Homo sapiens: one gene and its partner. The protein of the gene in region 1 purifies or fractionates together with the protein of each later gene. This does not show direct contact. Each region holds a gene or a part of one and is shown in the gene's direction. Other genes may lie near its edges.

Region 1 (3,500 bases):
ATGTTGTTAATTTCTTGAAATGAGTACTGTTTCTGCCTTCTGCTTTCTTGATTTCAGCTTCTTATCCTGAATTCTAATGCACGTGAGGGTACAGTTAAAAACATTTCCTTGGCTTTATTGAAATTCAATGGAAGGATGATCGATAAATGGGGGGTTAGTTTCTAGAACGTTACCTTCTCTTTTGAATCTCAGAGAGTTTGCTGTAATAGAATGTTTGTCCTAGAAGTTTTTAAGTAAAACATTCAGCCGTGGCTTAAAATTGAAGGGAATCATGAATCAAACTTCATAAAGCAGGTGGCTTGTTTTTTTAAAAAACATCTTAAAATAGTTTTTACTAAGTGATTTGGCCAAAGTGTTCTAATTAGGAAAAAAATGGAAGAATACTGATTGACAATGGTCAGGAGACCAATAGCACTGTTCCAAAGGATATATTAATTCTGCAAAATTACATAGTCATTGACCATGTTTTCTAGTTTTAATGAATATGCCACAGTAATGGATGAGAGGTATATGGGAGTTATGCACTATCTTTTCAGTTTTTTTGAAAATTTAAAATTATTACAAAATAAGTTTGTTTTTTTAAAAAATACAAAAGCAGGAGCTATGAAGTTGCAGAATGGAATTTAATATAACCAAAAATGCCAGTCTTGATTACTTTTCTTTCTGCCGCTAATGTACATCTCTAGTGTTTATTAGCAAATACACGTGTACATAGCATCTCTTTTACATTTTCACTGTTACTCTTCCTTCCAGAAGTCAATGTGATTTTAATTTGAAGCAAAACTGAAATGGGTTCTTCTTCCTCATTCTATTCATGTTGCTTTTTGATGGCCATGGCATAAGGAACTCTATCCCAGGAATACAGCTTTGCATTAGGTAAGCTATCAACTTGATCACGATACCATTTTTAAAGTTACTTACTGTAATCATTTCTCTTTTAGCAAAAATAATAATGTATTTTGTTAAGATTTTTAATTCCTCTAGACCAGAAGATTCTTTCTTCTCTTCTGAAGAGATGTTACACCTTCTAAGGCCCATCAATGCCATACTTTGCACTGATAGAACATTTAATGTCAGATAAATTTTTCTGCCAAGTGAATTTTTTTTCTTAACTTAGAAAAATGTTAGATTTGGAGTTATACTGCTGTTTGAATGCTGACATGCCATTTCTGAGACGTGTAACCACTGGCAGGTCTTTTAATTTGAGCTTCAGTTTACTCATATTTCAAAAGGATGCAATGATACGGGAGTGTTGCACAACGCAGGTTTACATAGTGTGCTTTGTGAACTCTAAAGCATTTCACTAATGTAAAGAGTAGGCATAGGGTATTGGTGTTTTTGTACATTTGTGCCAGGCTTTAAATTTACTGAAGCAACATTTACTATGTTTAAATATGCTTTCTATAGTAAGCATGCAAGTTACCATATGCTCTGATTAAAGAAACCTCTGAAGGACTTCACAATAAGTAGCTGGTGGGTCTGCTTCCCTATTATATTGCTGTCATCTGTGTTTTTAGGATGTTTAATAGGTGTTTAAATCACGTATAAAATTTGACTTGGAGTTCCTCAGCCGAATAATAAATAGTGGCTGTTATTAAACTCATCAAAGTTGGAAGGAATCTTGAAGGTCATCTAGTTCAGGATTTCTTCAGTATGTTGCCCTTCATCTGCGTTAAAAAAAGCCAAATAGCTTTTAAGAAGCATAGTGGAACAGGCTGGCATCGGTGTGTTTGTTTTAGAACTGTTGCTATTGGATTAAAAAAATAAAATACATGTGCAAAGTGGCATAAAACTGCTGGTATCTTTTTTTTTTTGAGACAGAGTCTCGCTTTGTCGCCCAGGCTAGAGTGCAGTGGCAGGATCTCAGCTCACTGCAAGCTCCACCTCCCAGGCTCAAGCAGTTCTCTGCCTCAGCCTTCAGAGTAGCTGGGATTACAGGTGCCGGCCACCACACCCGGCTAATTTTTTTGTATTTTTAGTAGAGATGGGGTTTCACCATCTTGGCCAGACTGGTCTTGAACTCCTGACCTTGTGATCCACGGGCCTCAGCCTCCCAAAGTGCTGGGATTACAGACGTGAGCCACCGCGCCCGGCCCACTAACTGCTGGTATCTTATTAAGGTTTTTGTTTGTTTGTTCATTTGTTTGTTTATTTGTTTGTTTGTTTGTTTTTGAGATGGAGTCTCGCTCTTGTTGCCCAGGCTGGAGTGCAGTGGCAGAATCTCCGCTCACTGCAACCTCTGCCTCCCAGGTTCAAGAGATTTTCCTTCCTCAGCCTCCTGAGTAGCTGGGATTACAGGCATCTGTCAGCATGCCCAGCTAATTTTGTATTTTTAGTAGAGACAGGGTTTCGCCTTCTTGGCCAGGCCAGTCTCAAACTCCTGACCACAGGTGATCCACCGTCTCGTGCTCCCAAAGTGCTGGGATTACAGGCATGAGCCACTGTGCCCAGCCGTCTTTTTTTTTTTTTTTTTTTTTTTTGAGATGGGGTCTCGCTCTGTCACACAGGCTGGAGCGCGTGGCGAGATCTTGGCTCACTGCGACCTCTGCCTCCCGGGTTCAAGTGATTCTCCTGCCTCAGCCTCCCAGGTAGCTGGGACTACAGGCATGGGCCACCATGCACAGCTAATTTTTTTTTGTACTTTTAGTAGAGAAGGGGTTTCACCATGTTGGCCAGGATGGTCTCCATCTTTTGACCTGGTGATCCGCCCGCCTCGGCCTCCCAAAGTACTGGGATTACAGGAGTGAGCCACCATGCCTGGCTTGGGCCATCTTAAGTCTAAGGATGGTCAGCGTGCGAAAGTTTGTGAATGCATTGTATATAATAAAATTATATAGATTATTTGTGAAAATGATATTCACGTTTACTTTCCATACTCTGAAACTATAGTGATATTCACAGCCAGGCACGATGGCTCATGCCTGTAATCCCAGCACTTTGGGAGGCCAAGGTGGGCAGATCACATGAGGGTCAGGAGTTCGAGACCAACCTGGCCAACATGGTGAAACCCCATCTCTACTAAAAACACAAAAATTAGCTGGGCGTGGTGTCACGCACCTGTGGTCTCAGCTACTCAGGAGGCTGAGGCAGGAGAATCGCTTGAACCTGGGAGGCGGAGGTTACAGTGAGCTGAAGTGGCACCACTGCCCTCCAGCCTGGGCGACAGAGACTCCATCTCAAAAAAAAAAAAAAAAAGAAGAAAAAATTATATTCACCTTTTCTTTCCACCTCTTAAGCTATAGTGGGCCTGAACAAGTACTTTGGATTTAAATCTCAATTTTACTGCTTACCAGTTATATGACCTTAAGTTGCTTAGCTTTTTTGTCTATCTCCAATTCTGTACAATGGAAGTAAAAAATACCTATTGAGTGGGTTGCTGTGAAGATTAAGTGAGACAGAGCATATAAAGTGCTTTGCATAGACTTTGTACAATGTCTGTATTAAGCAGTTTATATATTTGTATATGTATGTCATAAATAGTAGTTGCTGTTATTTCCTAT
Region 2 (4,800 bases), on another chromosome or scaffold:
GGGACAAAAAGAGGAGGTGGACTGAGTAGAGCCCAGGGGCATGGATCATCCTACAGATGTTGGGACCACAGCTACCTATCCATGAGCTGGAGCCACAGAGAGGCCTCATCTGCTGCTGGAGATGTCACCTGAGCCTGAGCAAGAGAGAGAAAGAGAAGAAATACCATGGCTCTTTCTTTCCTCCTGCCTTCTCTTCTCCTGCCACTGCCTCCCATTGGCTAAACCGAGGCCTGAAGCCAGATGCTCTGGGAGCCTGAGAAACTGCCCCCCGCAAGACTCAGCCCACTGCAATACAGAGCAGAGCAGAGGGGCACGGAAGGGATCTGTAGCAAATGGTAGAGAATGACCATTCAGCAGAAATAGTTAAACAGGCTTGGTAATACCTTTGTTGTAAAACCTTTAAAATATCAGATACACTTGCACATAACAAAATAATTCCCTTAAAAATAGACTGCAAGGCCAGGCGCGGTGGCTCACGCCTGTAATCCCACTTTGGGAGGCCGAGGCAGACGGATGATGAGGTCAAGAGATCAAGACCATCCTGGCCAACATGCTGAAACCCCGTCTCTACTAAAAATACAAAAATTAGCCGGGCATGGTGGCACGTGCCTGTAGTCCCAGCTACCCAGGAGGCTGAGGCGGGAGAATAGCTTGAACCTGGGAGGCGGAGGTTGTGGTGAGCCGAGATAGCGCCACTGCACTCCAGCCTGGTGACAGAGCGAGACTCTGTCTCAAAAAAAAAAAAATTAAAAAATTGACTGCAATCCATATAGACTAGTTCACACCTCTTCTCACACCCCCATCCTACTACGCGATTCTGAATACTACTGTGTCTGGTCTGATATAACGACATTCGAAGATGGATTTTCAGTGTCAGACATTTTGCATTTTCTGAGCTGAAATCTCATGAGGGTTGCTATAGAAGAGGGAGATGCACATTCCATGTCACAGAAGTAAAAGCTCACCCAGAGTGTGGTTATAGGGCAGCAATGTCATGGCAACTGGACTCTGGTCTTGGGGCTCTCAAGGGATTGCTGTGTGTCCTTGGAGAGGGTCACAAAATCTCCGGACTCCCGTGCCAAAAATGGAAATCATACCCATCAGGGTGGTTTATGTCCGCTCACAGTCCACTCTGCTTCTCTTCTTTGCCTTCCCAGAAGGGTCCAAAATGGTTTTTGAAAGAAACGATGAGCCGGACTAAGAAAACAGATAATGTGCCCACGGCCACGGAGCTGGCAGATGAGAAGGAATTCGGTCTCTGCGTTTCCATACCAAGGCCCTTTCCACTCACCCACCGCTTCTCTTCCTGCCCGGGGCATCTGCTGGCGGAGGAAGGCTTGTCCACGGAAAGGCAAAAGCGACTCCCGATCAAAATCCGGGGGCACCTGGTAGCGCTCTCCACGCCAGCAGAAACGCCCAACTGACTTCTTAATGGAGGGAAACCCCGGGCTTGGCCCGCAGACTGAGGGGCCCGCGTTGCGGGTTTTGGGGGCCCCTCTGCCTCTGCGCACCGGGTGGCCCCGGGTCCCCTCGGCCCTTCCCGCCGCCTCCCGGGTCCAGGGTTTCTAACGGGGCCGCGTGCCCGGGGCGGGGCCACGCGCGATTGGCCGCGCGGCATCGGGGGCGGGTCCGCGGCTGGCCGGCCGGGCGGGCGCCGACAATGAGCCTCCATAAAAGGGAGCGGCGGGGGGCAGGGGCCCCGGATTGAGCCCTCCCCGCCCGGGCTCCCGACGCGCCGAGGTCTCGGGGAGGCCCGGACGCGCCGGTCGCAGGCCCGGCCGGCGAGCGGCGGGCGGGCGGCGGGGAGGGGGCTGCGCGGGGCGGGCGGCGGGCCCGGCGCTATTCCGGCCAGGAGGCGGGAGGCGGTTGCCGGCTGCGCGCCGAAGCCTGCGCGCCAGTCCTCCGGCCACTGCTATCGCCCACGGCCGCACCATGGCCCTAAAGGCCGAGGGCGCCGCACTCGACTGCTTCGAGGTGACGCTGAAATGCGAGGAAGGGGAGGACGAGGAGGAGGCCATGGTGGTGGCCGTAATTCCGCGGCCCGAGCCGATGCTCAGAGGTGAGGATGGAGGGGATTCCACTTCCGCGTCACGGTGCGGGGCCGGGGCTGGGGCCGTCCCTCCCCAGTCGGGGTCCGGGACCCGGGCACCTTCTCACCCCCTTCAGCCTTGGGGCCCAGGTTTCCCTCTCGGATCTGGGTCCAGGGCGCGCTCTTGCACCTCCCCCACCATGGTTTAGAAGCTCAGGCCTCCTCGATTTCCCCCTCCCTTCCCCTTTCCCCCGCCCAGGGTCTGGAGACTTCGATCCACGCCCCGCACGCTCCGGATCTTCCGGTGCCCAAGCGCCCCCTCTCCCGGGCCCAGCACCAGAGGCCGGATCCCCAGAGGCGCTGGGTGGTTGCGGCCGCCGTCTCACAGCCTGGGAAGGGGAGGCAAGCACAACGGCCGGGCTGTGTTCTAGTCCGAGGGGCGGCGAAGCCTCTAGGCCGGAGGCTACAGGCGGGCGCCGCTGCCGACCTCCAGGAGAATTTTAAGGGCTCTCCGAGCATAACGCTTCCCTGCCCACCACCCCGCTTCATTCCCATTCCCGGGCCTTCCACTTGCAGGAGCCACAGGTGTCAAGTTCTGGAGAGAAGGGATGAATGGGACTGCATACAACAGCTAGTTTGGAAAAGCAGTGCAGTGCTAGAACGAGATTAGCTTTGGGAGGGGATGGGAGGAACAATCTCAGAACACTCGCTCTCCCCTCCCCCTTCACCGATTTCTAGTCCTCAGGAGCTTGCAAACCGTAAGAAAACAAAGAGCCATCTTTGTGGGAGACTTAATATGCATGAAAATGCAAATATATTTCCATTCTCCCACCCCGCTTTTCTTAGGCGGGATAGTACCCAAAAGAGGTTGAGAGCAGCAATGCCATTCATTGAACTTCAGCCGAACAGAATGATGTCTGCCTGCACTGCCTGTCATCCTTTTTGGAACTGGAAGGGTTATAAAATTCATGAGGGAAATAAAGGTCACCTCCCTTCTCGGAGCATTTAGTCCAAAAGATAGGTTGTTTTCCTACTTCTGCTAATATTTGTTGAGTGTTCATTGGGCATTGTCAGAGGCTGTCTCAGTTAATCCTCTCAACCCTGCAAGGGTGGCCTTATCCCCACTGTTAGGGCAGGAATAGACAGGTGAATTCATTCAACCAATATTCACTGGACGTCTACTTTAGGCTGTTTAGGCTAGTGTTTTTAGGCTGGGAAGTAGTAGTAAACAGAGCAACCGAAACCCTGCTCTTGAAGAACATATATATACCAATGGCTAAAGACAGAGAAATAGGTTCATGTATAGTATGTTGGGTGGCAATAAATGGTTCAGAGATCACTAAAGCAGGAAAAGGAGAAAGAGGAGGAATGGGTATTTAATTGAATATATCGAGTGGTTCAGAAAGGGTTTTCTAATAAGGTGAATTTTGAGCACAGACCCGAAGGAAGTGAGGATGCCAACCTTGCAGATATCTGCAGGAAGAGCATTTCAGGCCGAATAGCAAGTGCAAAGGTCCGGCAGCACAAGCTTCTGGAAAGATTTCGGTGGAGAGAGGAAGAAAGATTGAATTCAAGGTTTTTGGCCTGAGCAACTGGAGGAAGAGCCTTCCCATTTTCCGAGATGGGGAAGGCTGCGGTGCTCTTGGGAGACTGGGAGTGAAAGTTTGAATATGATTACGTTTGAGATGCCTATTTATGACATATTCAGGTGGAGAGGTCAACTAAGCAGTCAGATACATGGGCCTAGATTTCCTGGAAGTATCTAGCTAGTGGCGTAAACAGAAATTGCCAGCAGGCAGACAGTGGGAAGAGAAGGAAGTAGAGAAGTGTCTAAGGACTGAGTCCTGGGAAACTCCAGTGATGGCAGGTTGGAGACCGAGTCAGTCCCTCATCACACATTACTAAATGCCACTGCATGCGAGGAGATACAGATACAGATGCTGGAGATACAGATGCAAAACATCAGAAATCTGTATGGTCATGGATTTTTTTTTTTTTTTTGAGACGGAGTTTTGCTCTTTTTGCCCAAGCTGTAGTGCAATGGCACAATCTCGGCTCACTGCAACCTTCGCCTCCCGGGTTCAAGTGATTCTTCTGCCTCAACCTCCCGAGTAACTGGGATTATAGGCATGTGCCACCACGCCCAGCTAATTTTGTATTTTTAATAGAGATAGGGTTTCCCCATGTTGGTGGGGTTGGTCTTGAACTCTCAACCTCAGGTGATCCGCCCACCTCGGCCTCCCAAAGTGCTAGGATTCAGGCGTGAGCCACCGCACCTGGCCGTGGTCATGGATGCTATGGTGTGGTAAGGAGACAGGCAGTGAACATCCCAAAAACAAGTGCCAGGTGGTGATGTGTGCTGTGTTGGAGGTGATGCATAAGGGGAATGGGGTGCTCTAGTGAGGGGAGATGGTCTTCAGCAACAAGCCAGAGGAAGGGAGGGAATATTGAGAAGAGATGAGGAAGAACTAGCACACATAACTGAGAAAGAGGGCCAGGGAAGCAAAAGAAGAACCAACAGAAGGTCATGCCCTAGACGCAAGTGATGAAAATCAAGATGGAAGAGGTGATCGGCAGAGGATGAAGTTGAGAAACTGACCGCAGAGTTTAGCACTGCTGACTTGGATGAGAGCTGTTTTGGAAGACTAGTAGGGAAGAAAGCTGATTGCAACTGAGAGGTCATTTCTGCCCATGGTCGCATGAGAGATAGGTACAAGACATATCTCGTATCTCTTTCAGACACCACCTCTTGTATCCATGCAAGCCGAGGC

What was found. The genes of interacting proteins can lie anywhere in the genome.
Region 2: the proteins of ZBTB43 (region 1) and SPINDOC purify together in Homo sapiens (affinity purification with mass spectrometry; one large-scale study listed by BioGRID and IntAct). This does not show direct contact.

Annotation. Positions count from the first base shown.
Region 1 is NC_000009.12:126,808,040-126,811,539, forward strand, and holds part of ZBTB43 (zinc finger and BTB domain-containing protein 43), read left to right. Parts: intron 1-57; exon of another isoform or gene 58-153; intron 154-753; 5' UTR 754-876; intron 877-3,500. UniProt on the Homo sapiens protein: May be involved in transcriptional regulation.
Region 2 is NC_000011.10:63,811,755-63,816,554, forward strand, and holds the start of SPINDOC (spindlin interactor and repressor of chromatin-binding protein), read left to right. Parts: upstream 1-1,701; 5' UTR 1,702-1,932; coding exon 1,933-2,059; intron 2,060-4,800. UniProt on the Homo sapiens protein: Chromatin protein that stabilizes SPIN1 and enhances its association with histone H3 trimethylated at both 'Lys-4' and 'Lys-9' (H3K4me3K9me3).